4 linked regions of the Homo sapiens genome follow. The protein of the gene in region 3 purifies or fractionates together with the protein of the main gene of each other region. This does not show direct contact. Each region holds a gene or a part of one and is shown on either strand. Other genes may lie near its edges. The genes, in order: ZYG11B, YWHAE, HDAC7 and ADNP.

Region 1 (7,230 bases), on a different chromosome or scaffold from region 3:
TTCCTAGCTCAAAATAAGCTAATATTCTGCCTTCTCCTCACCTCTCCCATACATACACTGTTACTCTGTGTGTATATGTTTTAACAAGCAAGGAAAAATCAAGTTAATTAGATGCAAAGTTTAAAACATAATCATGCCTAATATGTCTGCTGTGGTCTGAATTCTGTCTCCCTAAATTCATATGTTGGAATCCTAACCCCCAAGGTAATGGTATGAGGAGGTGGGGCCTTTGGGAGGTGATTAGATCACCAGTTAGTGCCCACATGAATGGGATTAGTGCCCTTATAAAAGAGACTCCAGAGAGCTGCCTGGCCCCTGCCACCATGTGTGAAAACAGTGAAAAGGTGACTTAGGAAGAGCCCTCACGAGACACTGAATCCACTGGGGAACTGATTTTGGACTTCCCAGCCTTCCAAACTCTGAGAAATAAATTTCTGTTGCTGACAAGCTACCTAGTTTATGGTATTTTGTTACAGTAGATTGAATGGGCTAAGACAGTATCTTGCTAGCCTCATTTCCTACTACACATCTCCATTCTTGCATCCTTCCATGCTATATAAGGGTAATACTACTTCCTACAATGCATCCTAATTCCTTCCTACTTTCTTTCTTAAAAAAAAAAAAATCCCTGTGAGGGGATCCTTTCTACTTGCTACTCACATTCACAATGAGGCATTCTTCCCCTTCCCAAAATGATCTATATAAATCCTATTCAACTTTCAGGCCCAGCTCAAAGGACACTTTTAGATCCTAAATACCTCAAAGGGGAGTTCATAACTCCTCCCTCTCATACATTCATTCTCAATGGAAGGGCCCACACTTTCAAAAATCTAGCAGTGTAATGTCTTAGGTAGGATAGCTCTTTATTCTGAAAAGTATATCATCATACCTCACTCAATATCATTTTTGCATCAAAATTAAGATTCTCTGCCCAGGCGTGATGGCTCATGCCTGTAATTCTAGCACTTTGGGAGGCCAAGGTGGGAGGATGGCTTGAATCCAGGAGGTCAAGACCAGACTGGGCAACACAGCAAGACTCCATTTCTACAAAAAGTTTTACAAATTAGCGGGGCACGGTAGTCCGTGCCTGTGGTACCAGCTACTTGTGAGGCTGAGGTGGGAAGATCACTTGACCTCAGGAGTTCAAGGTTGCAAAGAGCCATGATTGTGCCACTGCATTCCAGCCTGGGCCACAGAGCAAGATCGTCTCCAAACAACAATTCTCAAACTCACTCTTTCTGTGTAGTCCACTAGTTACCTCAAATTTCAGTTTAAGTTTATATTAGTCAGGTGGGAAATGAGACCATAAAGTGAATCATTCAAGCACCTAGCTGGCCTGGGCACTTGGAATAATAAGTAAGGAACGGTTGCTACCTAGAACTTACATTCCACAGGGAGAAACAGGTTAGCATACAACAACAGTGTGTGAAAGTGAAGGAGACAAACACAGGAAAATGACAGACTAAAAATGCAGGAGTGAGTTAGGGAAAATTCATAGATTAAATAATTTTATAGTATATTACTTTTCTAAAAAACTGCTGGAGGGAAAAAAAGAAACTGACTAACCTCCTAGGGGAACATAATTATCAGGACTTAGTTTTGCCTTATTCCTCCCAGAGACCAAAATTTAGCTTGTTGCATATGATGGAGCAATGTTTTCAATAAATGTACAGCAAACCACTTATAACCCAACTCAATGAAAAAACCAACTGAAGCCTCAACCTATTTTCAGACAGAAAGAAAATTTGCAAATATAAGGTTCTCCCAACTAAAGGCAGACAGGGCAAAACAAATGAACTCTTTAGAAGGTTTAAAGAGACTGTCACAACCTGCCAACCTGATTGTCAGTCCTCAAATGCCCTTGGTCTCTGCCTCCAAATGAAAACAAATCATTTGTTTTTAGTAATAATAGCCAAGCTTGTAAATAAGTATTTTTAAACTTCTCCAACTGCACCTCCACATTAAAAGATGCTCAAAATAAAAAAAATTCAAAACATTTTTTAGCTATTTCTGTCAAAAGACTAGATCTCTCCTGAGGTCACAGTATGCATGCTGGCCCTCACTTCACTGCTCTGTAACACACCACCACTTCGATTTTGCAATGACACTAGGTGAATAGGCTTCCAGGATCTCTTCAATGCCTCCAAAAACGAAAAGGAAGAAGCAAACCTATAAATCCCTATCTGCCCGCCCTACAGCTCCCGGGAAGCAACAGTCCTCAAATTGTTCCTGCTTAGACCCCTGAAGCCCGTAGAAGGAAATGGGGACAGCTGCGACGGCGAACCGAGCGAGGACATCCGATAAGGGAAGAGGAAACGTGGATGGAAGAGGACGAAGGGGAGAAGGAACACGGAGAGAAGGGGGCAGTGGAGATAAAATGGTGAAGAGGGGTGAGAAGAGCAAGGAAGAGCAGCGAAAACTAGGGAGGAAAGGGGGGAAAGTAAAAATCACATAAGAGGAAAAAAGGCAAAATGATAGAGGAGAAAGAAAGGAAGGGTTAGGGTTAAAGGACAAGGAGTGGGCGACAAAGGGAATGCGAAAAAGGCTGTCACTGGGGGTGATAAAAAGGATGTCATCGGGGAGAAGGGAGATTCAGGGGGTGTCACCTAAAGGGGTTCACCGAAGCAGGTGAATGGGGAAGGAGGAGCTGAACACCGAGGGGGCGGTAACGAGGGAGAGAGGTAAAGGCAGGGAGCCCGAGGGGACACCAGAGACAGGGAGGGGCAAGACCGCAGGGGCCAGCGCGACGGGCGGGGGCTAGGGTGGCGGGCGGCTGCGGCTAGGGCAGGCCTTGCTCCCTCACCATGGCTGCGCCGGCCTGGTCCTCGGGCATGCAGCCTCCGTCCTGGGTGCGGCGGCGGGCCGGACCGGAGCCCGCCCCCAGGCTGAGCCGGCGCGGAGGCTCCAGGAGGCTCCGGCGAGCGGCGGCTCCGGGCTTGGCCCAGGCCTCGGCCTCTTTCCCTCAAGCTAGGAGCGTAGCAGTAGCAGCCGCAGCCGCAGCCGCAGCCGCAGCCCGAACCAGAGCGCAGACTCCGCCCCCGCGAGGACCCGCCCGGGCGCGCGAGCCCGCGCCTGGACCCGCCTCCGCTCTCAATGCGCAGACTCAGACGAGGGGGTCCCGCCCCCCCCAGCCCGACCTCCAGCTTCTCCCCCTCCCAGGCCCTTAAAGGAGCCACACACCCCCAAATCCTAGCATCCCTTCAAAATATGAAAAGCTTTAAATATTACATCATGACGAGAGATTAGAGCATCGCTCACTTCGGTCACCTATAGACTCCTCTGTCATTCACCATCATTCTCTAAGATTTGGGCTTCTGGTTCACTGTCATTCATTACTACTATTGTCATAACTCTTGGTTATTTCAAAATTCGCTTAATTCTTCCAATCCTCTGGCCTCTCAGATTCTTCTCTAGGGATCATTCTTGGCTCAGCCTCTCACTCTCATGCTCATACGAATAATTGTAACTTCTCTACAATCTCAATTTTAATCCTCTAACTCCCATTGCAACCTTCTTCCTTTCTTTCTTTCTTTCTTTCTTTCTTTTTTTTTTTTTTTTTTGAGATGGAGTTTCGCTCTTGTTGCCCAGGCTGGAGTGCAGTGGTGCGATCTTGGCTCACTGCAACCTCCACCTCCCGGGTTCAAGTGATTCTCCTGCCTTAGCCTCCCGAGTAGCTGGGATTACAAACACCCGGCACCACACCCGGCTAATTTTTGTATTTTTAGTAGAGAAGTGGCTTCACCATGTTGGCCAGGCTGGTCTCGAACTCCTGACCTCAGGTGATCCGCTTGCCTTGGCCTTCCAAAGTGCTGGGATTACAGGCGTGAGCCGCTGCGCCCGGCCACAACCTTCTTCCTTTCTAGCTCACTCTGTCTGATAATACTCCAACTCCAAAAACTTCAACTCCAAGACCCCAAATCCATTGATCCAACTACCTTTTCGCTATTCCTCCCCACGCTGGCCTTATGTACTCACTTTCTTCCTGAAACAGCTTAGATTCTATCGTCCGTCATGAAATGGAATCTAATAGAATCTAAGCTGTTTGGGGAAGAAAGTGAGTACATGAGGTACATGAAGTCGATTTCTTCAGTATTACCTTCATTTCTCTAGTCGTTCTCTGCTTTCTTTGTACTGACAGAACTCCAGCAATGGAGTGGGTGGAGAAAAAGCCAAAAGTGGTTGACTGACTCCCCGTAAATTTGAGATCATTATTCTCAAGAGGCCATAATGAGTGGCTACCCTACCACATTTCTCCAGTTTCACACACTCTCCCACCTTGCTACATAACTATTTCAAGTCTCCTGTCTCTTCAAACCTCCGACACTTCCTCCCTCATCTCATTTAGCTGATGATTTTGCTTCTAATTCACAAGAAAATCAAACAAACCAAAAAGAACATCTACAAGTTCCCAGCACCCACCATGACTTCCAACGAACCTGTAACTCTGCTTTGATGCTCTCTCTGCCTTCCTTTCCTTACTACAAGTTAATTATTTGTCTTTTAGCTAACATCAAATCCTCCTCAGTTCTCAAGCATCTGTGCTAAAAGACCCAGATTTTATCCCCAATCACAAAACTAAATTTCTGTAAAATACAATCAAAATTAATTACTAGAAAAAATTAAAATTTAAAAACAAGCATCCAAAATGCAAGCCCAGATTTTTTAAACCTGCTTAACCATTTTAAAGTGTACAGTTCAATGGTATTAAATACATTCACATTGTTGTGCAACCATCCCCATCAAGAAGCTCCAGAACTTTTTATTTTTTCTTTTATTTATTTATTTATTTATTTATTGAGACAAGTTCTTACCCTGTCACCCATCAGGAGTACAGTGGCACAATCACGGCTCACTCAGCCTCAAACTCCTGGGCTGAAGCGATCCTCCCACCTCAGCCTCCTAAGCAGCTAGAACTACAGGCACATACCACCACGCCTGGCTACCTTTTTTTTTTTTTTTTTTTGTAGAGACAAGGTCTCACTGTGTTGCCCAGGTTTGTCTCAAACTCCTAGGCTCAAGTAATCCTCCTGCCACAGACTTCTAAAGTGCTAGGATTACAGACGTGAGCCAATGTGCCAGGCCTCCAGAACTTTTTTATCTTGCAAAGCTGAAAGCTTGTACTCATTAAACAATAACTCCCCATTCCTAACTTCCCCCAATCCCTCGCCATCACTGTTCTGCTTTCTATCTCTATGAATTTGACTACTCTAGGCAGAATTTTTATTATTAAACCCAACACGCGTAACATTTTTCTGTCAAATTGTTATAAAAGTTTCAAAATATTAATTCTGAATTGCTGTCACAAACTGGTGAAAAACCATTTCTAGATGGTCACTAGTCCATTGATGACACTTTGAGGAGCTCAAGTACTAGGTCTCATACCACGTCACTTTCTCAAAGACACCTATCCAGCAATTCTTCCTCTCACCTACATCGCTATTTTTCTGCTATTACCTCTCATTGCTATAGCAACATGATTTTATTTCTTCCATCTTAAAACAATCAAACAAAAAAACCCTCCTTAGGTTGCAGTGAGCCAAGATCACGCCACTGCACTCTAGCCTGGGCAACAGAGCGAGACTCCACCTCAAAAAAAAAAAAAAAACCCTCTCTTGACTGGACTTGACCCCCCACCTACTGCCCCATTTCTCCATTCTCTTTTCTGCAAAATGTCTCACAAAGGTGGCTTGTACATGGTCTCACTCTGTTGCTTAGGCTGGAGTGCAGTGGTGCGATCTCAGCTCACTGCAACCTTAGCCTCCTGGGTTCAAGCAATCCTCCCACTTCAGCCTCCCAAGTAGCTGGAACTACAGGCATGTGCCACCACGTCCAACTAATTTTTGTATTTTTTGTGGAGATGAGGTTTCATCATGTTGCCTAGGCTGGTCTTGAACTCCTGAGCTCAAGCAATCTGCCTGCCTTGGCCTCCCAAAATGCTGAGATTACAGGCATGAGCCACCTCGCCTGGCCTTGACTTCCTTTTTCTCATTTTCGGTGAGATCCTCTCTGGTTAAGCTTTTACCTCCTCCACTCCACTGAAATGCCCTTGTCAAGGTCACTAGTGGTGTCCATTTGCTGACACCAGTCAATTCTCAGTCCTCGTGTTACTTGACCTACCAACATCACTAGACACAGCTCATTACTTCCCCCTCCTTGGCTACCATGACATTTCACCCCCTCGGGTCTTCTATCTCACTGGCTGCTCCTAGTTTCTCCTCATTTCTCTGACCTCTAAATACTGTAGTACCCCAAGGCTCAATATTTCGACTTTTTGTCTTTTGCATGTACACTCCTTGATAATCTTATCCCAACACATTACTTTAAATATTATCTATGCTGTGATAACCCCAAAATTATATCTGCATTCTGAATTTCATACTTAAATATCTAACTGCCAGCTAAACATATCCCCTTATATGTCTAGTAAGCTACAATTTTTCTTAGTAGTTACTCAATAGACTTCCCCTCAAGTACCATGGATAAGCCAATAAATACCAAAGAGAATAGGACCAACAATAGTAGCTTAGACCAATCATGATTTACTCTCCGTCTGATCTGTGAGTTACTTTCCCTAAGGACTTCCTTGTAGTGGAGGAAAATCGTCATTAAAAATTAGAGTTCTGGGCTGGGTGTGGTGGCTCAGGCCTGTAATCCCAGCATTTTAGGAGGCTGAGGTGGGTGGATCATGAGGTTAGGAGATCAAGACCAGCCCGGCCAACATGGTGAAACTCCATCTCTACTAAAAATACAAAAGAAATTAGCTGGGTGTAGCGGTGCGCACCTGTAGTCCCAGCTACTCAGGAAGCTGAGGCAGGAGACTCGCTTGAACCCGGCAGGCGGAAGTTGCAGTGAGCCAAGATCACTCCATTGCACTCCAGCCTGGGCGACAGAGAGGGACTCCTTCTCAAAAAAAAAAAAAAAAAAAAAGAAAGAAAAAAAAATTAGAGTTCTAGCCAGCCAAGGTGGTTCACACTTGTAATCCCAGCACTTTGGGAGGCCAAGGCAGGCAGATGGTTTGAGACCAAAAGTTTGAGACCAGCCTGGGCAAAATGGCAAAATCCCATCTCTACAAAAAAATACCAAAAAGTAGCTGGGCATGGTGGTAGTTTCAGCTACTCAAGAGACTGAGGTGGGAGGATCACCTGAGCCCTGGAGGTCGAGGCTGCTATGAGGCATCATCACGCCACTGCACTCCAGCCTGTGTGACAGAGTAAGACCCTATCTCCAAAA
Region 2 (7,354 bases), on a different chromosome or scaffold from region 3:
AAAGAATTTGTATCCCTCTCCAAACTCCCTTCTTCCTTCTTGACACAAAAGCAGAGAAAAGCTGCCTCTAGGTTATAAAAAGTATCTTTTCCCTTCTGCATGCTGCCTATTGTTACACACACACATGCAGGCACGCACACACGCCAGCCCCCACACCCCCTTCACAGTACCACAGTACAGCTACAGAATTACCAATGACTAAAACTGAACACTGATGCTTCTTGGTAAATGCTGGTCAATTACATGAATTACCTTCTTTCACAAGGTAGCAACGTAAAGACATTGCTCTAAGATCAACAATTAAATAAGAATTTAATAAGCAGAGCTAGGATTTGAACCCAGGCAGGCTGCAAGGGACAGAATCAAAATTTAAACCCAGGCAGTTTGCCTTCAGCACTCACATCCTTAACAACATTCACCAGGCAATTCCTTTAGTGGCAGAGATCCGTAACTATTAAAACACCGAAAACCTATCTACCAAAGTAGCTACTGCCACCCATCTCTATCCACTGATCATGCTGAACACGCACACCACCTCTCAACGCACATCCTCAGCTTGCTTCCTGTTTGCTATTAACTCATGCAGCACTACTGCTGAACCTTTCATGAGGGTCCTCTCCGTGCCCCTGGAACCTCCGTTTCACTGCAGAAAATTCTCTCTTTTTCTTCTATAATCACATCCTTATCCCAAGCAAAACTACTTTCTGAATAAACGACATCCCTGACAGCTTTTCCAATAGAGACTGGTCTAGGAGAAGGAAGACTTCTAAGTTCTCCTAGCTCCTTGCATACTCAATGACTGCTCTATTACTCCAAACTCTTCCTCCTCACAAGCTGATGATCTACATTCTATTTCTCAGTTTTTGTCATCAATAGATCTCTACACCCTTCTCCCAGATTCACTGAGTATCTACAGCAAACCCACCCAATACCTGAGATCACACCAAGGTATGGTGCAGCCATGTTCCATTCAACAGAGTTCTTTGCTCTCTACTCCTAGACTTTCACTTGTCCACACCCATGACCATGCTGCTCCATACTAGAAGTCTGAATTGCAACACTCCACTCTTGGCCCGTGGCTTCCTTTTTCAGTTCCTCTTCTCTTATTATTTCTATTTAGGGACTCATCAGGACATCTGGACTCTTTATTTTTTACTTTTTCTTTCTTTGATTCAGAGTTTCCCTCTTGTTGCCAAGGCTGGATGGAGTGCAGTGGCTCGACGTTGGCTCATTGCAACCTCCACCTCCTGGGTTCAAGCGATTCTCCTGTCTCAGCCTCCCGAGTAGCTGGGATTACAGGTGCCCGCCACCATGCCTGGCTAATTTTTGTATTTTTAGTGGAGACGGGGTTTCACCATGTCGGTCAGGCTGCTCTCGAACTCCTCACCTCAGGTACCTGCCCGCCTTGGCCTCCCAAAGTGCTGGGATTACAGGCATGAGCCACCACGGAAGGCCCCAGCTCACAACTTTCTATGTGACCTCAGGTATGTCAAACACCCAAAACCCTGGTTTGTGCATTCATAGTTGGGATAATACCTCCCCCTTCCAGTGCCATTTTAAAGATTTCATGTACTACCTTGCACAAATACATGTAACAAAAATATTTCTCTACTCAGGACAGTGCCCAGTACAGCTGGCGAGTCAGTAACTGTGGTTCCCCCACCCTTCCCTCCCCCAACCAACCTCACTTTCCACCTGCCCTGTAATTCTCTTCCCTGTTCTTTCCTGTATTTACGTGCCTGTCTCTTCTACTAGAATCGGTTACTCAACAGCAGCACTCCCGACAGTTTGTTGTGGGGCCCGTGCTGTGCCCAGTAGAATGGTTAGCAGCACCCCAGTCCCCACCCCACTAGATGCTAGGAACACCCTCCAGAAGTTGTGACAATCAAAAGTATTTCTAGACATTGTTAAACGTTCTCTGAAGTACAAAAGCACCTCTAATTGAAAACTGCTGCATTACAGTGATGGCTGTCCAACTTTTTTTTAACAAGACCTACAATAAGAAACATTTTATATATGTATATACACCCACAGTAAGTAAAATAACTTCATTAAATAATCCTCAGGGAAAAAAAAAGAGGAATCAGACAAATTAACCCAATATATTGGTTTTTGGGTGCTTTTTTTTTTTTTTAGATGGAGTCTCGCGCTCTGTCACCCAGGCTGGAGTGCAGCAGTGCGATCTCGGCTCACCGCAAGCTCCGCCTCCCGGATTCACACCATTCTCCTGCCTCAGCCTCCCGAGTAGCTGGGACCACAGGCTCCCGCCACCACGCCCAGCTAATGTTTTGTATTTTTAGTAGAGACGGGGTTTCACCATGTTAGCCAGGATGGTCTCGATCTCCTGACCTCGTGATCCGCCCACCTCAGCCTCCCAAAGTGCTGGGATTACAGGCCTGAGCCACCGCGCCTGGCCAACCCACCATATTTTTTTAAAAAACAGTCATCATTTTGCTTGAAAATACAATAGTTCCCCCTTATCCAAGAGGGATCCATTGAGACCTGCCAGTGGATGTGATGAAACCATGGAAAATACCAAACCTGATACAGACTATGTTTTGTCCTCATGCATAGCCACGGGTAAGTTTAACTTATAAACCAGGCACAAAGATCAATATCAGAAACATTATAACATACTGTAATACAAGTTATATGAATGTAGTCTCCTTTTCTCTCAAAATCTTAAGTGTACCGTCCTACAGGTAACTCAAACTGTGGATAAGGGGGGATGATGGCACAACAATCTCACCATTTGCCGATATTCCCGAATCATTTTTAGCTTGTCTTCTCCTCCCTTGTTTTCTTCTTTCTGTTCAATGCTGCTGATTATTCTCCAGGAGGCTCTTCTAGCTCCAATCACATTCTTATATGCAACAGATAGGAGGTTTCTTTCTTCAACTGTCAGCTCCACATCCATCCCTGCTACTTTCTTCATTGACTCCACCATTTCTGTATGGGAAAAGGAAAAGTCAGACCTTACAAATTTGAAGTTTTCTTAACATATTCCTTTCAAAGTAGTTTTTTTCTGTCAAGCTACTGCGAAAAAAACATTTTAACAAAAATAATTTCATAATCATCAAAACTAATATGAGTAAAAAGCCAAAAACATGTAAAGGAAACCAAACTAAGAGCCAATACAAAGACTCCAGAAGGTAGTTAGGTGGAGTGAGAAAGACTTCATATACTATCTAATATAATTTAGTGTGGTCTGAAAGCACCTCTCATTAAATAAGGTAATTAGGCACACCTAACTATTTTCCAGCAAAAAAAAATGAGCTGTCAGTTTAAGAGAAAGATTAAGAATTTACAGGTTCTAAAATGTATTGTCTCACAAATAAATAGTATTTCCAAAAATACAAAAGGAAGGGGAATTTGTTCATACAGCAAAAATATACGGAGTATATGGTTGGCCACCAACAGACTTTGGATGTTTTCTATCCTTCCTCGTATGAAGCTCCTTCATTGGTAAAACTTCTGATGATTCCTACTTGTTACCACTAGGTGGCGAGCAAAGAAAGGGGCCCAGAAAAGCCTTGGCATCTACCGCAAGCATAGGGAAACACAACGGCGTGTGAATGCAAAGCGCCACAAACAGCACAAGAAATAGTAACTGAATAAATACATTAATAAAAACTTATTTTTGATGCCATATTACCATGTGGCTCTCCAACATTACCCACGTTTCAATCTTTGGTGATGAGACTCAAGAATCTGCATTTTAGGGCCAGGAGTAAGTGGCTCATACCCCTAGCACTTTGAGAGCTGAGGCAGGAGAATCACTCGAGCTCAGGAGTTCGAGACCCTGTCTCTAAAAAATAAAAACAGAGGCTGGGCACAGTGGCTCATGCCTGTAAATCCCAGCACTTTGGCAGGCCGAGGTGGCACATCACCAGGTCAAGAGATAAAGACTATCCTGGCCAACATGGTGAAACACTGTCTCTACTAAAAATACAAAAATTAGCTGGGCGTGGTGATGCACGCCTGTAGTCCCAGGTACTCTAGAGACTGAGACAGGAGAATCGCTTGAACCCAGAAGGTGGAGATTGCAGTGAGCCAAGATCATGCCGCTGCACTCCAGCCCAGCAACAGAGACTCCACCTCAAAAAAAAAAAAATAGAATAAATAAAATAAAAATAAAAATAAAAATAGGCTGGATGTAGTGGCTCATGCATATAATCCCAGAACTGTGGGAGGCCAAGGTGGGCAGATCATTTGAGGTCACGAATTCAAGGCCAGCCTGGCCAACGTGGTGAAACGGTCTCTACTAAAAATACAAAAATTAGCTGCGTTTGGTGGTGCGCGCCTGTAATTACAGCTACTTGGGAAGCTGAGGCAGCAGAATTGCTTGAACCCAGGAGGCAGAGATTGCAACTGAGATCGCCCCACTGTATGCCACCTGGGGCAACAGAGCAGACTCCATCTCAAAAAAAACCAAAAGAAAGAATCTGCATTTAAATAAGCATCCTTAGCTTTCATTAACACCCTAAGCATAAGCATACCTTAACTAATAGGTATGAAAGAGATGGTGACTTCATAAAACACTACTAAATTGGACGGGCACGGTGGATCACACCTGTAATCTCAGCACTTTGGGAGGCCAAGGTGGGTGGATCGCCTGAGGTCAGGAGTTCGAGACCAGCCTGGCCAACATGGTGAAACCCGTCTCTACTAAAAATACAAAAATTAGCTGGGCATGGTGGTGCACGCTTGTAATCCCAGCTACCAGGAAGGCTGAGGCAGGAGAACTGCTTGAACCTGGGAGGCAGAGGTTGCAGTGAGCTGAGATTGCACCACTGCATTCCAGCCTGGGTGACAGAGTGAGACTCCGTTTCAAAAAAAAACACAAAACAAAAACCAAAACACTATTAAATTAAGGGGAGTGTGCCTAATGTATCCAGGAAAATATGTTTCAAAAATTAATCCTTTCGGGAATATAAAAAAAATTAAGCCATATTTTGTAAAGTCTCTTCGAAAAATATTCGGCAATGTTTTAATAAACATGTACCATATGACTCAGCAATCCCAATTCTATGCATCATCCAGAAGAAAAATAATCTTTACAAAGACTTTTACACACTCACTCACAGCAACTCTATTCATAATAGCCAAAAAGTGGAAACCCCTCAAATGTGCATCCAGAGGGGAAATGTATAAGCACACTGATGTTCACATATGTAAGATGGGATACCACTCAAAAATAAAGAATTAACTGTCCATGCACAGTGGCTCACATCTGTAATCCCAGCATTTGGGGAGGCCAAGACAGGAGGATTACTTGAGCCCAGTAGTTTGAGACCAACCTGGGCAACATGGTGAGACTCTGCCTCTACAAAAATTAGCTGGGTGTGGTGGTGTGTGCCTGCGGTCTCAACTACTCAGGAGATTAAGGCAAGAGAACTGCTTGACCCCAGGAATTCAGGCCTGCAGTGAGCTATTAGGTTGGTACAAAAGTAATTGCGCATTTTGCCAGCAAAAACCACAATTACTTTGTATAATCCTAACGCTGTACTCCAGCTTGGATGACAAAGCGAGAGACTCTGTGTCCAGAAAGAGAAGAGGAGACGGGAGGGGAGAAAAATAATTAACTGATACAAGCAACAATATGGAAGAATCTGAAAAACATCATATTAAGTGAAAAGAGTCAGATTAAAAGGATTTTATCATTCCATTTATATCAAATTGCAAAAAACACAAACTAAAAAGACAGAAAGCAAATGGTTATCAAGGTACAGAGGTGAACTGAGGGGCTTTTGTGCAAAGGACAGGTCACAGAATTGTACATGTAAAAGTGGCACGTTTAACTGTACACCTCAAGCTGATTTTTTAAATGCAATTCTGAACCATTAAAGAAGGATGACATGTTGGGTGCTGTGGCTCACACCTGTCATCTTAGCACTTTGGGAGGCTGAGGCAGGTGGATCACCTGAGGTCAGGAGTTCAAGACCAGCCTGGCCAACATGGTGACACCCCGTCTCTACTAAAAATATAAAAATTAGGCCAGGCACGGTGACTCACGCCTGTAATCCCAACACTTTGGGAGGCCGAGGCAGGCAGATCACCTGAGGTCGGGAGATCGAGACCAGCCTGACCAGCATGGAGAAACTAAAAATACAAAAAAATTTGCCAGACGTGGTGGCACATGCCTGTAATCCCAGCTACTCGAGGCTGAGGCGAGAGAATTGCTTGAACTCGGGAGGCGGAGGTTGCACTGAGTGGAGATCGCGCCACTGTACTCCAGTCTGGGCAACAAGAGCGAAACTCCATCTCAAAAAAAGGAAAAAAAAAGAAAAAGAAAAATACAAAAATTAGCCAGGCATGGTGGCAGGCATCTATAGTGCCAGCTACTCGGGAGGCTGAGGCAGGGGAATCGCTTGAACCCCGGAGACAGGGGTTGCACTGAGCTGAGATCGCGCCATTGCACTCCAGCCTAGGCGACAGAGTGAGACTCTGTCTCAAAAAAAAAAAAAAAAAAGTATTACAATATGGTAATAAGACCACTCATTAATTCATTTGTAGGAGTCTGAAAGCATTCATCTAAAACATGCCCAATTTTGTTTTCTAAACCAGTCACGAAACAGTCTAAATTTAGAAGCAGTGGAATAGGTAATCGTACCTCCATACTAGTTTAATTCTCAAAAATCAGCAAGTCAAACATAACTCAGAGGTAAGCCTGTAATTAAACTTTCTAAACTGATCGCAAAGTAAATCTTAAGTAACCCAGCTACACAAAAACAGTGCCATTAATTCTTTTAAGGCTTTACAATATTACATACAGAAAAACTATGCAGACATCAAATACTACCAAAAATTTAAGTTACATATCTCGAATATCATTCCTTATGATTTAATTTTGTTCAAATTTCTGTGCTTTACAAATTTTCAACAACGAAGACTTAGTATTTTTATAATGCAAAGAGAAATATATTTGTAACACTCAGTGATACTCTACTGTTCCAGATTCAAGCATAAATGCTTTCATTTTTACATATACACAAAACAATGCACAGACTGTGTGGTAAAATTATAGAAGCAACAATTATCCCTTTAATAATACCTTTATTTATATATAATTCCCCTACCTAACAATTCACCCATTTAAAGTGTACTATTCGGCCGGGAGCAGGGGCTCACCCCTGTAAACCTTGGGAGGCCGAGGTGGGTGGATCATGAGGTCAGGAGATCAAGAACAGCCTGGCCAACATAGTAAAACCCCGTCTCTACTAAAAATACAAAAATTAGCTGGGCATGGTGGCAGGCGCCTGTAGTCCCAGCTAACCAGGAGGCTGAAGCAAGAGATTTGCTTGAACCCGGGAGGCGGAGGTTGCAGTGACCCGAGATGGCTCCACTGCACTAC
Region 3 (7,872 bases):
GTCCAGGACCAAAGGAGCTATGCTCTGCTGATGAAAACATCCCTCCCACCTCTGCCACCCCCACCCCTGCCCCTTGCCCCAGGCAGCATGCTACCCACCTCTCCCTTGTAGGAGGAGGGAGACTGGAGGAGGGCAGTGGGGATGGGTTGGGAGGAAACAAGAGGCTAGGCCAGCGACTCAAGTTGCTCAGGGCCCTTCCGGGCGTCCAGCTCCCCTCTTTCCCTCTCCCTTCCCCCCAGAAGACGCCAAAGGGCCTTCCCCCAGCCCGCGAGTCCATGCTCACTCAGGCCACTCGCCTAGATTCCCAGGCCCCTGATCCTAGGGAGCCAAAAGGGTTAGGGAGGTGGCTAGATCTGGGGACTCCTCCTAATACTCAGGCCTCTAAGGAAAGGGCTGTCTGGGGGCACCTTCCTGTAGCCCTAAGGCCTGGGGCCTCCAGGGAAGGTTACCACAGAAACAGGGGGAAAATATTACAAGGAAACACAATACCCGGCAGGGTCACCTGCTGACCGGGCTTCCTGCTGTGTTGCCCACCCCCAGCTCACTGCTCTCACAGCCTCCTTCTCCAGCCTTGGCCTGGGCCTCCTCACCAAGGCTCTCCTTCCTGCCTCCCCAGAGCTGGGAGAAGCAGTCTTAAGCAGAAACTCTGCCCCTCCGTGGTTCCAAACAACAACATCGAGGATGGCCCAGAGCTGAGCCCCCCACTCCTAATCCTTACCAACCCCTCCTCACCATCACCACAGGAAATCAAAGCTTCCTGCCCCAAAGGAAGTGCCCCATCTAGTGAACAAATCCAACACACACAAATGCACAGTCCTGGGAGCCTCCGGGAGGACAGATGCCCTCCCGCTAGCCCCAGACTTTATTCAGGCCCTGCTTCCAGCAATACCCCACACCCCACTGGAGGCCTCAGTCCGAAGTCTAACTGAGGGCAGGCCAGGGAGAGCCAAGCTGTGGAGGGTGGGCCAGCAGAATGGGCACTGGCAGAGTGAGAAGGCCTGGTTCTGGCCCCCTCCGCCTGCCATTCCCTGGCTGTGTGACCCTGGGCCTTGCATTAGCTCACCTTCTCTCAGGCCCCTGCCGACTTCAAAATTACCAGCCCTTAATGAAAGGCCAGGAGAAAGAAGGCAAAGAGGAGATGGGGTTCCACAGGCTTCTGTCTTCCAAGTCCTTGGGCATGCTTGCCCACAGCTACCAGAGGGTCCCCACTCCCTACCCCATCACACATGAGTTTCTCTCTTGCTCAAGGGTTTTATATCAGAATTGAGAAAGTTCCAGCTTCCATGCCAAGAGGCCACCAAGGACTAAAGCTGAGGTCCATTATCCCTAAGCAAACTGGAGGGGGTGGATAATAGCACAGTACCTTCATTCTCCTCTCCATAGTCAACCTCTTCTGCTCTGCTCTGAGAAGTGTGCTTGGAATTTTCTCCCCATTTTACTGATGGGGAAACTGAACTTCAGTGTCAAAGTGGAGTGAACAGCTTAGACATGCAAACTTCCCTGCCCCAAAACCCACTGTAAGACCCGGTGGCCACAGAGACACCCGCCGAATAAGGGACACAGAGGCCTCTGGAGAACACTGCACCAGGACCATTCCAGGTGCAACATCAGGAGGCAGCTCTGAGCTTGCCTCTGAGCCTGGCCCTGCTGGGCAAGGAGGGACATCAGGGGACTAAAGGCAGAGGACCAGTCCCAATAGGTCCAAGACCTGGTTCCAGTCTAGGTTCACTGGGCTGGGTACCACTCACTGGGACTACTCTGTGCCTTAGTTTCCCTCAGAAATGACTGCAGAGAAGAAGAAAATGACTTAATAACCCATGGGTAGCGGCAGCCTAGCAGCCTATGGAGTCCTGGGAGGGGGAAAGGGCCGCCAAAGCGTCTCATTGGAGGGCAGGGACCTGAGTCACAGTCTCCTGCCAGCCCTATAGCTGAATAGGGGTCCTGAGGAAGGTCCCACAGGTCCAGATGCAAGTCCAGGGAACAGGCTGAGAAGTTGATCTTGAGCTCCCAGCAGGGCCGCTGAGGGCCGATGCCCCATTCTCACCCTAGAAAGCGGCAGGCAGAGCTGGGCCTCAGGCAGATGTTGCCTAGGGGAGTGGGCAGGGAGCGTTGGCAGCGAGACAGCCAGTGTCCAGATGCAGGGGGAGGCCTTTGGGTGCGCAAGACAGCCAGCGGGGAGAAGGAGTGAGGAGCAGCCGTGGCTGGGGAGGTCAGACCCAAACGGGCAGCCACAGCGGGAAGCAATGGGGGTGGGGCACTGGGTGGCCTGCGGGCCCCAGAGGGCTCTCTCCTGGCCCACAGGCCTAGAAACTCTGGTCGTGGGAACCCAGCCCATCCGCCAAATTTGCCGCCTGCTCTCACACTCCCCAACACCAACAGACCCCAGGCCTGGGGGGTGCACATCCTGTCCCCCACCCCTCACACAGCCTGCGGCGCCCCGCTTCCCGCGCCGCTGCCGGCATTGACCTCCACAGCTCACCAGGGCACAGGTGTCTCTTCACCCTGATGGGTGAGCAAGGATGGGGGGCAATGCTCAGAGAAACCTCCCAGCCAGAGACCCCTCCAAGGGACCTCTTTCCCCGCCGAAGGATCTGAGTAGGGCCCTGCCCGGCTCCACGGGATGGGGGCGCTGATGTCCAGCCCCACAAAGCCCAGCCCCAACTCAGTGGGTCCTGCCCTTTGCCCTCGCGCTTCCAAACCTTCCGCCCCGGAGCACCGCCCCCTCGCCGGGCCACCGCGGCCGTCCCTCCCTCCCCGGTCCCTCGGCTCGTCCTCCCCGGGAACAGGGGTGATGGGACGTGGGGCCCGCACACCGGCGGCCGGGGCCTCCAACTCCCTCCCTTGGGCCTGTAGCTGCCCCGGGGCGGGCGGATGTGGGCGCCCCGCGGGAGGCCCGAGCCCTCCGGCCCCCGGAACCAGCTCCGACCCGGAGCCTGCCAGAGCCCCGCGGAGCCGGGCGGGACAGGCGCGGTCGGGGGGCGCAAGCCGGGCTGGGCCCGCGGGGCTGGCGGGAGCCCGAGCCGGAGCCGGAGCCGGAGCCGGGGCCAGGGCCGGAGGCCGAGCCTGGGCGGGCGACGCTGGGTGCCGCGCGCAGGGCGGGGCGGGGGGCGGCCGCCCAGTACTCACCAGCGCCGGGGCTGTGCATCCAGGGGCCGGGGCCCTCAGAGCGGGGGGCTCATGGCGGGGCGGGGGGCTGGGGCGCCGGCCTCACATCCCCCCAGTCGCCGGAGGCTGCAGAGCGACTGTGAGACGGCGAGAGGAAGGGAGGGGGCCGGGAGGGGGAGGGCCCTGGCAGCCCGGCCGGCCGGGTAGGATGACAATGGAAGGAAATGCTTTATCTGAGTCTGAGAGCGGGCCAAGGGGGAGGGGAGGGAGGGGGCAGGCGCTCGCGGCCCTGGGACACACCACCCCGGCAGACACTGCACCGCGCGGCGCACAGGCGGGCCGCAGACACCGCGCGCGGCCAGATCGCGGCGGGGCGCGGCGCACTGCCGGGGAGGCAGCGCCGAACCCGGAACGCCGGCCGCGGCTCCGAGCCCCAGCCGCCGCGAGGCGCTCCGAGCCGTGCACAATTCCCGGAAACCCAGCTACCTGGGCGCACGCACCCTCGCATACACAACGTACACGAGCACGCATCCATGTTTACAAGGGGCAGAATCATTTACACAGCACACACTGGGGCTTCGGGGTGGACCCCCGTGCACACACTACATACCCGTACAGCCCACAAGCACGCAGCCACACGCGGGCACAGTGGGACACGCGTGGTGTCCCATGTCCCATACAAGGAATCCCAGACGGACACCCCCCACCACACACACACACACATAAGCACGACTTGCCTCAGGAAAGTTCCAGGATCTGATTTGAATCACTGCCCAGCCCTCCCCCACTGGCACCCCCACACACACACCATGCCTGCTGAGGGGAACGGAAGGGTCCAGCCTGTTCCTATTAAAAGAAAAAGGGTGTGGGGGTGGTGCAGATTTTGAAAGTTTTCTTTTTTTAAAGAAATTTCTCAAGGGACTTCCTTCCCTCCTCTCCTCTTCCTCTCTTCCTCCCATTCCTCTCCCTCCACAACCCCCCTCTTTCCCCCTCCCGGTCCCTATGAGTCAAACTTCAGCAATGTGCCCAGTGTCCCCCAGTGCATTACAGCGGATCACAGAAATGTTCCAGTCTGTGAGTCGGAATGCAGCCGCCTCCAGCCCTCCCTCAGCTAATAAACTCAGCTCAGGGCCGGCTTTAGGCAGTGGCCCTCCCTGCCTCTCCCTCCGCTTTTAGCTGGAGAGAAGGTCAGATTCAGGGGTCAGGGGCTAAGGACCTCGCCATTGTGCTTCCTGGGCTAGCCGGTCAGCCGTGTCTGCCTCCAGCAATCTGGAGCTGCTCCTAGGAAGGGGAGAGGTCCACCACGCAGGAACACTGGGCTCTCTGCAGCGTGAGGCGCCACCATTGTAAACCAAGGAGCAGCTTCCCCTGACCCCATTCTATCTCCCGCAATCCTAAGAAACCCCAAGAATCCAGAGAAGGAAAAATTGAGGCAGCCCCAGAGGTGGAGTCATGTCTGATTGGAAGCAAGAGCCCACAGTGGCCTAGGAGGGCTTGGCCATGCTGGCGGTGAACTTCAAACCATAGATTCTATTCCCTTCCCTCAGGCACAGCTCGGGACTCACTATCTGTTGCTACCGGCATATTCAGCGTGGGACTTCTTACTTCAGCCCCTTTCCTTGTCCCAGTTCTCCTTCGGCAGGCAGATCCAACCCCTCTGCGCTTGTTAACTTACCCTCCCAAAAGCCTTTCCTGGCATTCAAGTCCTCCTACAACCTGGCACCACACTCCATACACATCCCTGCCCAGTGCCTCCTGGTACTTAGGGCTCAGTAGTGTTAGTCACTATTATTACTATCATTATTTCTGCCAGACTGGGCTGCTAGCTGCTTCCCATCCTGTCCTCACGCTTCCACACTCCCTTGCCTTCGCTCATCATGCTGCCTCCAAAAGAAATGTCCTCCCAGCCCCTTTCTCCTTCTGTTGAAATCTTTCCAATCCTCAAGACCCACTCCCTATCTAGTGGGAGGGAGGGAGGGAGGGAAGGAAGGAAGGAAGGAAGGAAGGACTGGAAGAAAAAGAAAGTGGCATACCACTTTCTCCGGGAGGCTTTCCCGGATTCCCATAGCCAAGAGGAATTCTTCCCTGAACTGTGTGGTCTTTATACATTGACCTTCGCCCACCTAGTCTACTTGTCTCAACTCTCTTCCTTCCAAGAGCATTCAAGAGTGGATATCCCTGAGTCCAGCTACTGCCTTGGTCATGGGTGCATTTCTTGTAGTGTCTTGCACAGAATTCAAACTTGATGTGAGTTATTTGTTGAATTGGGACAGATGTTCATGACTTTCAAGAACCCTTCTCCAGCTGGACACCTACAGTACATTCTTTCACCCCATAACTACCCATGCTGACTCTCCAAGACACATGCTGTTCCACCTTAGGTATGTCATCCCCAGCCCTCAATTCCAAGCCAGATCATCCTCCTTCCAAATGCCTCTTTGGTGTCCACAGACTCCAGAAAAACTGCTTGGTTACTGCAGACCCCCAGCGACATGCCTGCTATCTCCCTTGTCTAGCTCCACAATTGATCCCAACCCCCAACACACACATATCCGTAGCTTTTCTGTAGCTATTTCTGTAGTAAAGCCAGGCCCTTTTATGCTCATTTCTACCATGTGCATTGTGCATACATTTATTTGTGAGTCTTCTTTCTCTTTTTAAACTCATCACTGAGTTTTGAGTGATCTGAATTAAGAGGCTATCTCCCTGCCTGTCTGTCCACACAGTGCCCAACATGTGGCTTTCTACACACCAGGACTCACTGCCTCCAACATATAGTCAGAGAAAAAGACAGCATGTGCAACCTGCATCTGGGAAAGCTGGACTGTGTCTCTCCTTCCCCTGCCAGATTTACTTACCAGACCCCGCCTCATGGCAGAGTCCTAAGCCAGTTTCTAAGTCACATGTCCCCTACCAGGATAAATTAGAAAGCCTCCAAGAACCTTAGAGACATGAGACAGAGAAATGCAAGCTACCTCTCTCTCTTCTAGCCTGGTTACCGTGGGGAGCCTTTTTTTAAAAAGCTCTTGAGTCCAGGCCTCTCATAGCTTTCTCAGCTGAACACCTAGCAGAAGAGACTGGCCCCAAAAGACGTGCCTTGGCTTCCTGAGCCTTCCCTAGAGTCTCCGGCCAGCACAAAGCCTGAGGGCACCCCAATCTGCTTCCCTTTGGGACTCTGGGCCTACTTGACCTTCTCTTCTCCTTTTCCTCTCCTTCTTTCCTTAGTTAGCTACTGTTTACCATTTACTGCGTAGCAGTCCTTGCTATCCCCTGGACAAACATTAGATCATTTATTCTTAACAATAATCCTTGTTATGCTCATGAGTAAAGCATGGCCTTTATGGTTAAGAAACCTGATCAAAGTTGCACAACTAGTAAGTGACAGGGCCATTCATTCATTCAACAAATATTATTGGGTGCCTACTTTGTGCCAGGATTTAAAGCCCCAGAAAATTATCCAAACTTTCTGATACCCTCCGTTCCCAACCTTCTAGATGTGGGGGCCATAGCCACAATTCCTCCGCCAGCCTGCACTTATCCTCACACACTTCGCACAAAGCCAACCAGAAAGTGCTCCTTCCCCAAGGCCTCAGTTCAGTGAGATCTCAGTGGACACTCATTGTATTGGGTTAGTTTGGATCTTGCATTTCAGTTTCTGGATCTGGAATCAAATGCCAATTCTCAGGGTTTGGGACTTGCAGATTAGTAAGGGAGATTAGGTCCCCAACTCCAAATAAAGGGTTTCATGGGACCAGACATAAGAGATATAAGAAGTACGGGAAGGAAAGAAGAAAGGAAGGAAGAAAAGGAAAAAAAGGAAGAAGGGAGAAAGGAAGGAAAGAAGAAAGGAAGGAAGAAAAGGAAAAAAAGGAAGGAAGGAAGGAAAGGAAGGAGGGAGGGAAGGAGAGAGGGAAGGAGAGAGGGAAGGAAGGAGTGGAAGAAAAAGAAGGAAGGAAAGATAATTTAGGATTTATTGAGCATGTTCTACATATCGCACGCTGTTCAAAGCCCTTTCACTTAAATCTCATTATTATCCCCATTGTTTCCATGAGCAAAGTAAAACTCAGAAAGACAAAATGATCTGCCCAAGGCCACAGAGCCAGTAAGTTACTTAATCCCAAGTATGTCTGATTCAGAGCCTGTGCAATTTCCTAGCAGGTCAAAATAATGAAGGACGCATTGCCAGGGTCTCCTGTTCCAGTGTAGCCTGCTTCCTTGAGGTCCCTGTACATCTCATTCCAGATGCCAAGTTTCTGACCCCAGCCATGTGGTCTCATCCCTGTTTCCCACCTTTCTCTGTTGCACTGCACCAGCAGAATCAGGGGAACCGTATAAGTATTCTGAGTAGGGTTGGGGGTGTGACTTTGGGGTACAGGCAGGCAGACCCCTATCTAGGATGTCAGGATCTGAGAGAAGAGGTGCCAAATCCTTCTGGGCCAGAATTGGATGGCTAGATCAAGAAGAGGCTACAGTGTGGCTATAAGTACCAGGGTCTCAGGTTGGGAGGGTAGATGACTGTGGGGACTGGGGCAGGTGGAGAGAACTAAGCTGGTCCCTTCCCCTTACCCCCATCTCCCTACAGAGTCAACAAAGGTGATGTGGTTTCCCCTGTGGTCTGTTGCCCTAGACACCTGCAGTTCTGAATATACATGTATGTGTCTATGTGCCAACTATGTGGCAGGGGACACAAGGAGAAAGCACTGGGACAGGATGGGGAGGGGCAGGAAGCCAGACAGTCTCCTCAAGCCCAAGACAAAGAAGGTACCA
Region 4 (7,354 bases), on a different chromosome or scaffold from region 3:
CAAAAAGCTCAAACTATTATGACTGAGAATCAGATGTGGTTGCCATAACAACATCTGTTCCTGTACACATTACAATGCATCATGCACAGTAGTGTTTTTATACAATATTTTACATCTGTGTGAGCCATTCATACTCAGGTTTGCATATTCTTAACAAGCTCAGTGACACTTAAAATATTTAGGCAACTGAACATCTGCAACTATCTTAAATAAACCCAGGTGACTTACAGTTATGTAGAAACATAAAGGTGTCATCTAGATTTTGCGTATCTTAAGTTTTAAAAAATATGTGGAGTCACTGGTCTTTTAGGAAGATTTTCAGACTACAAGACTGGTGCCCACAACTGGAAAACTGCTACTGTGTTGCTGCTTATCCTGATACTTTCCGTATTCAGATTTCAGGCAAGAATTCTAGCAGTGACCACCAGAATTTCCAGTACACCAGTAGAACCAGTTGTTTTCAGGCTGAACTCCTCTAAGAGTTTAAGATATGTATACAAACAGAGGGAAGATGATGCCTGAGGGACAAGGTGAAAGCTGGGCAGCCAGAGGTCTGGCCCCCCGACCCTTCATCAATTTAAGAGTTCACCTAAAATTGTATTTGAAAGCGGGGGAAGATGCCTCGGTACTTAAACAAGAAAAACAGACTGAGGATACTTTATAATATACCAATTTAGATTTAGGGAGAGTGTGAGGTGAGGAGCACTTCCCAGTTTACTTCACTCTAAACAGGTATTGCAGCAAGGCAGGGACACAGCATAAAGAGTGATTCTAGCACTCCACTGCCTACATAAGAACTCCACAGGCATACAGCCACTTGCTGTCGCTGTAAGTGGACAATCTGGCTTAAGATCAATGTGAAAAAGGGAAATAATTCACAAGTAGCCCTTAAGGGGTGCTTTAGGGGAAAACTCTCAAACTTTGTTTTTCCTCTGCCCTCACACCACACAGAAGTCGTGAAGTTGTCTTCTGTGACCAAACGTGTAGGGTTTTTTCCCAAGCAGCGGACACCAGCTGAGTATCCTCTAATTTGGTTCTGACACTGTCTACCTGGATACAGTGTCATATTCCACAAGATGGGGGCTCAGTCCCCAAAACTGCTCTCTCCTTCTTCAGACTCCAACTGTAAGTCTGGGCCTCCAGAACTTCTGACTGACACTTCAAGCTGGGGTTCCCAAGACCCCCTCCTTGAGTTCTATTAATTTGCTGGAGCATCTCACAAAACTTGGGGAAACACTTATGTTTACCGGTTTATTATAAAAAGTACAGATAAAGAAATGCGTAAGGGCACTGGGCTTCCATACCCTCTCTGGGGGCGCCACCCTCCAGGTGTGTTCAACTATCTGGAAGCTCTCTGAACCCAGTCCTCCTGCGTTTTTTTTTTTTTTTTTTAAAGACAGAATCTCACTCTGTCCCCCAGGCTGGAGTGCAGTGGTGCAATCTCGCCTCACTGTAACCTCTGCCTCCCGGGTTTGAGCAATTCTCCAGCCTCAGCCTCCTGAGTAGCTGGGATTATAGGCCCCCACCACTAAACCCAGCTAATTTTTTTTGTATTTTTAGTAGAGATGGGGTTTCACCACGATGGCCAGGCTGGTCTCAAACTCCTAAACTTGTGATTTGCTCGCCCCCAGCCTCCCAAAATGCTGGGATTACAGGCGTGAGCCACCGCGCCTGGCCCTCCTGGGTTTTTATAAAAGCTTCATATAGGAAACCTTACTTCCCTTCCCCGGGGTATAGGGCCAACACCCTCTCTCTAGAGAGGATCTCAAGACCTACAATCAGAAAGCTGGGTAAAGATCAGAATCTTGCCTTGGGACACGTGTAAGGAGAGCAGGAGAAGATCAGAGATTATTTTCTGAGACCTAACGTACCCTATATTATAACAAAACACGGTAATGGGGTTATGGGTGTTATGAGCCAGGAACCGTGGTGGATGAAAACCAGTATGTATCACAACACCACAAGAGGACACGCAGATATGTCCATTTATAAATTATTTCAGAAGCATGCCAAGTCTTTGTATCTAAATGACATAAAACGTTATTTTGATCCCCTAATAATACATTTTTATGCTCTACCGAAACTACTCAGAAATAATTTCCCACAATAGGAAATATATTTCTTTCACTATTCTTGAGTAACAGAATATTTAAACTATGTTCTCAAGTTTTTCGAAGCCATTTCCCAGGATCAAGGCTTCACCGAAGGTAGCTTTTCAAAAGCGTTCTTGTACCAGGTTTTGCCACTTGATGGCTCAAGTTTTCACACTTTCCTCAGAGAAGTTTTATTTGCATTTTTTTTGGTTGCTGTTTTTTATTTTTATTTTTTTTTGAGACTGAGTCTCACTCTGTCACCCAGGCTAGAGTGCAGTGGTGCCATCTTGGCTCACTGCAACCTCCGCCTCCCAGGTTCAAGTGATTCTCCTGCCTCAGCCTCCCAAGTAGCTGAGACTACATGTGAGTGCCACCACACCAGGATAACTTTTGTATTTTTAGTAGAGATGGGGTTTCACCATGTTGGCCAGGCTGGTCTTGAACTCCTGACCTCAGGTGACCCGCCAGCCTTGGCTTCCCAAAGTGCTGGGATTACAGATGTAAGCCACCGCACCCATCCTCTTGTTGCTGTTTTTAAGTGTAACTGATCTTGAAGCAGGATTCTGAGCACTTCTTGCATTTGGATACTCCCAGTCTCAGCTCACTTCTTTCACAAGAGCAAGGATTCTGTCAACCTAAATTTATAATTCGAATTGAAAATTTTAATAAATTCCACCATATTTCCACTAGACAGGAGTTTCTCAAAAGAGACCACTCAAAAGGTTCTCAGGTCATGAGCTTCCACCAGAAGAGCAGAGCTTTACAGATTGTCAACTGAAGCACAGGTTTCCACAAGCTCTTAAATGGAGCATGAAGGATTCAGAAAAAGAAAGGGTAAAAGCCAGCAATTATCTAAGAAAAAAGTAACTGCTCAGGACAGACTGACTGTCTTAAACTAAAAAACTGGGAAAAGAAAAGGGAACATAAACAACGTTTCTTTTTAGATTCTTATACAGTTAACTTCCCAGCAGAAATATGCTACTCCAATTAACTGCCACCTGCACAATTTACACCCATACTCTCCCTGCTGGGGGTGTGGCTAGCTTCTTTACATGTAGACGCCATTGGAATCCTTGGGTTTAAGCTCACATGGAAGCATAAAACCTCACTGTGAAATGGGAAGCATTCATGTGAGCCCCCATTAGCCAAACAGCTTACAAGAGCACCATAAAGGCCTGTGTTGCAAGCACAGGCCTGGGAACCAGCCCAGACATACTCTGTGGCTCATTTCATCATTGTATGTGGTAGTGCCTTGATTTCCCTACTTGTGAAACAAGGATAGTCCTGAGAAAATTGGGAATAGTTTATAAAGTGCTTGGAAAATAAAACAGACAAGCCACCAATACTATAATACCATAAAGGCCAGCAAGGGGGCCTTTACACTTAAGCAGCACATCCTTATTAAAGTCATCACAGTCACATGAGAAGTGACATATAAACACAACCCACAGCTAAGTGACTCAATTACAAATCTATACCCTTACTGAAGAGGGTATTAGGATATGCAGATTCATTTTTAATTCTAACAGCTGGTCAAATAATGCATGACTCTTTTAGATTACGTGTATGCTTTTAAATTAAATCTTTAACTTAAATCTAAAACTGTGGCATATATTCAGAGCAGGCTTCCCTTTGTAAACTCCATCCAACGTTGTCTATGCTTTCCTCTTATTTTCTAAATCTTTATTTCCAGAACACTGCTGAAATTCTTGAGAGGTTCCAGGCTTTCTCTAGCTGCTGTCTTGGAACCAAGGTAGGGATCAATAATACCAAAGCTTGTGAGTGAAATCTCAAGGAACTCCTTAAGGCAGAGGACTGAATTAATACACAGAGATGACAGGACCCAGGACTAAAAACAGTAATATGAATTTTGCATTTTTCATTGATTAGAATAAAAAAACGTGTGCCCTGCAATCAAAACTGTCACTTTCCACAGTTGGCTCAATTTTTATCTGTGACTTCCTATACACACACACACACACACACACACACACTACATAATCAAGTTGGCTCATATATACCAACTTGAGAAGCATGATAATATGTGAGGAGAGCCTTCTCATTCCAGTGAAGCAGAATATGAATTCTCACTTAAGCTGACCCCAAAACTGGCAGATCGCAAAGGTAGGTCATAACATAACGCAGGTGTAGGGAGTACTAAGACACTGAGAGGATGAAGGAACATAATCATCCTCTCCTCACTTTCTAATAAACAGGATCAGACAAACAACAAAAAACCATGAAATCACAATGGCCACCCACAATGGGCAAAGCATGGACGGTTTATCAAATAAAGTATCTCAACAATCAAGGTGGAAAGTGCCAAAGTAAAAACAAGAAACAGCTTTTACATTCAAAGTATCAATTCAGTTAATTAGCATGGGGCTTTGGTTTATACTAGTTTCAAACACCGAGTTTCCAAACTAACAACATAGAAGGTGTTAACTGGCAGTGAGGTACATCAGCAAAATACGGCATTTACTCCAGTTACTATCACAAGCTCTTACAAAACTAGGAGAGGGGCTGGGAGCGGTGGCTCACGCCTATAATCCCAGCACCTGGGGAGGCCAAGGCAGGCGGATCACCTGAGGTCAGCAGTTCAAGACCAGCTTGGCCAACATGGCGAAATCCCATCTCTACTAAAAATACAAAAATTAACCAAGCGTTGTGGCAGGCACCTGTAATCCCAACCACTCAGAGGCTGAGGCAGGAAAATCACTCGAACCCGGGAAGCAGAGGTTGCAGTGAGCCGACATTGGGCCACCGCACCCCAGCCTGGGAGACAGAGCAAGACTGTCTCAAACAAACAAACAAACAACACACAAAAACTAGGGGAGGAAAAACTTTAAGTTTATACGATGCTAATAACAAGTCAAGCTCTGTGAATCCAACTATAATTAAATTATTTACACATAGGGGAGCAATGTTTCTCTTAATGTACATGCCTCTCAGTCAAGAGAATGAAGGTTAAACTCCCACTGAAAGTTATTTTACCTTATGTAAGACATAACTGACTTTATGATGCTCTTTTAAAAACTCCTTTGGAACTCCAGGTTGAACAAGTAGCTTATTTACACAACAGTCATGGGTACTTTGGTGTAAACCACAATAATGCTTCTAATGTTGTAAAATAAAAACTTCCTATTTTTTTCTTTCATATTACTTTAAAAATCTTTATTTCACTAAGATTTAAATAGGTTACTTGGAAAAAATACATACATAAAGTTTAATTCTGGTATTTTTTTACTACACTTAGATGTATTGTCCCCAAACTACATCTCAAAACTAAATGTACTTTCCCCAAACTACACGTGATACTTGAACTTTTCATCTGTATTTAATAATATGACAATCATTTCCAGCTCTAGAAAACCTACATATATTTTATATGTATGTGTACATACATACACACACCCAATTGTGAAATCAAGTGACCTAGGTCTATTGCAATTTATGCAGTTTTGTTACTTATATATGATTCTCAAAAGAAGAAACATAAATGCTGAAGTTTTTCTTTTTTTTACCCTATGAAGTATCAATCTCTACTTTCTCCTTTACAAAACAGCTTTATCTTCCTTATTAAGTTGCAATTTTCAAAATAAAATTTGTAGCCAGCATCATCTTATTTAATCAATAAACTTGAGTATTTTAGTTTTCAAAATACTAACTTTTTAATACTTTCAAAACGTGTAAGTAGTTACAAGGAAAGCAACAACTTCACATAGTATGCCTTATATACCTATACTTTTAATAATCAAATATAAATAATAAGCCATTTTTGCCTGATAAAAGCCTACTGGTTGGTTACTTGCAAGTGGTACCAAAACCATCTGTTCAAGGTTGTGAAGTTCTTATTTTAATATAAATAGTATTAAAACTCTTCCTGCACTCTGGTATAAGGAGAAAAAGATAAACTTAAGCAAAGCAAAGCAAATTCACAGTGGGCATGTATAAAATCAATGACTTCCAAGGTTGGAAGGGCCAAGGGTCATTAAGAGATTTTCAGCCCAATCTCCTATATTTTCTATACAGGAACTATAAAAACCAAAATCAAAGAGGTTAGTTTCAATATATAGCTCCTAATAAGCTAGTCTCAGGAAATTTTTCAACAAAGGCCAAGATAAAAAAGGAATTTCTACTTAAAGTTCAGTTAAACAGAATACCCATTCCCCACACTCTAGTTAATTGAACCTTTTACTATACTTTAATGAAGTATATAGTTTACCTACTATAAATTCCAGTCTTCAAGCCCAATTGTTTCACTTTTTTTTTTTTTTTGGTAGAGACAGGGTCTCATTATGTTGCCCAAGCTGGTCTTGAACTCCTGGCCTCAAGTGATTCTCCTGCCTCAGCCTCCCAAAGTTTTGGGATTACAGGCGTAAGCCACCTCACCTGGCCTCACCTTATTTTTTGAGTGTTAAAACCAAGAAACCTTTGAAACAGTAGAATACATGCTTTCTAAGAGCTCACAGCAAGTTTTCCTTTAAGGGAAAATGGCTGTTACCACTTAGGACATCATTCAACACTGTATCCCATTCGCTAAATCAAACAAAAGCCCCTCAACAAACTTCATTTCAAACATTCCGTCAAATAAGTTGTCTTCAAATTATATGGTCATTTTCAGAACTTAAATAACTGCATATAAAACACCAAATAAAGATAAAAACTATACCTGCCTACAAATACTATACAGTATTTAAAAATTTAAATAATCCCATTTAAATATGTGATTTTTCACAATGACTAAGAAATTGTAGAAGCAATGTCTCTAGTCAAATACCTGTACCAAAGGGCCTCCTTTTCACTCACCAAAATGTTACCTGGTAGCAATTCTCCAATGAAAAATTCTCCTGTTAAGCACCAACTGGTTAACTAGGTATCAAAGAATACACCCATTCAGTTCTCCATAAACTTATCTTGGTGTATTTATGTAACATACAAAGTCTTAAAGGTACCCACAAACATCAACCACTGTCAATCTTTGGTAGCAAGAACAAGTTCATGGAAAACCATGTTTTCATCAGACATTTAAGGCTTTTAGAAGCTTAGCAACTCTAGAGATTGGGTTATCAAAGTAATAGTAACTGAATACTTATACTTTATACAAAGGGGTGTAGAATGCAAATGATTACAATATTAGCATCTGTAAAAATTTCTCTTAAAAAAGCTGTAAGTAATTTCTTATGTTAATAAGTGTTCAGAACCCACTACTGCAACCAGCTCTAACCGGTTCCTTGAGGAATGTGGCTAGGCTGAAATTT

What was found.
Region 1: the proteins of HDAC7 (region 3) and ZYG11B purify together in Homo sapiens (affinity purification with mass spectrometry; 3 studies listed by BioGRID and IntAct, with this or other methods). This does not show direct contact.
Region 2: the proteins of HDAC7 (region 3) and YWHAE purify together in Homo sapiens (affinity purification with mass spectrometry; 4 studies listed by BioGRID and IntAct, with this or other methods). This does not show direct contact.
Region 4: the proteins of HDAC7 (region 3) and ADNP purify together in Homo sapiens (affinity purification with mass spectrometry; 3 studies listed by BioGRID and IntAct, with this or other methods). This does not show direct contact.

What each region holds. Positions count from the first base shown.
Region 1 is NC_000001.11:52,722,257-52,729,486, reverse strand, and holds the start of ZYG11B (protein zyg-11 homolog B), read right to left. Parts: upstream 3,035-7,230; 5' UTR 2,834-3,034; coding exon 2,804-2,833; intron 1-2,803. UniProt on the Homo sapiens protein: Serves as substrate adapter subunit in the E3 ubiquitin ligase complex ZYG11B-CUL2-Elongin BC. Acts to target substrates bearing N-terminal degrons for proteasomal degradation with the first four residues of substrates being the key recognition elements.
Region 2 is NC_000017.11:1,362,110-1,369,463, forward strand, and holds part of YWHAE (14-3-3 protein epsilon), read right to left. Parts: intron 2,950-7,354; coding exon 2,750-2,949; intron 1-2,749. UniProt on the Homo sapiens protein: Adapter protein implicated in the regulation of a large spectrum of both general and specialized signaling pathways. Binds to a large number of partners, usually by recognition of a phosphoserine or phosphothreonine motif.
Region 3 is NC_000012.12:47,816,641-47,824,512, forward strand, and holds the start of HDAC7 (histone deacetylase 7), read right to left. Parts: upstream 3,264-7,872; 5' UTR 3,146-3,263; coding exon 3,127-3,145; intron 1-3,126. UniProt on the Homo sapiens protein: Responsible for the deacetylation of lysine residues on the N-terminal part of the core histones (H2A, H2B, H3 and H4).
Region 4 is NC_000020.11:50,921,205-50,928,558, forward strand, and holds part of ADNP (activity-dependent neuroprotector homeobox protein), read right to left. Parts: intron 1-7,354.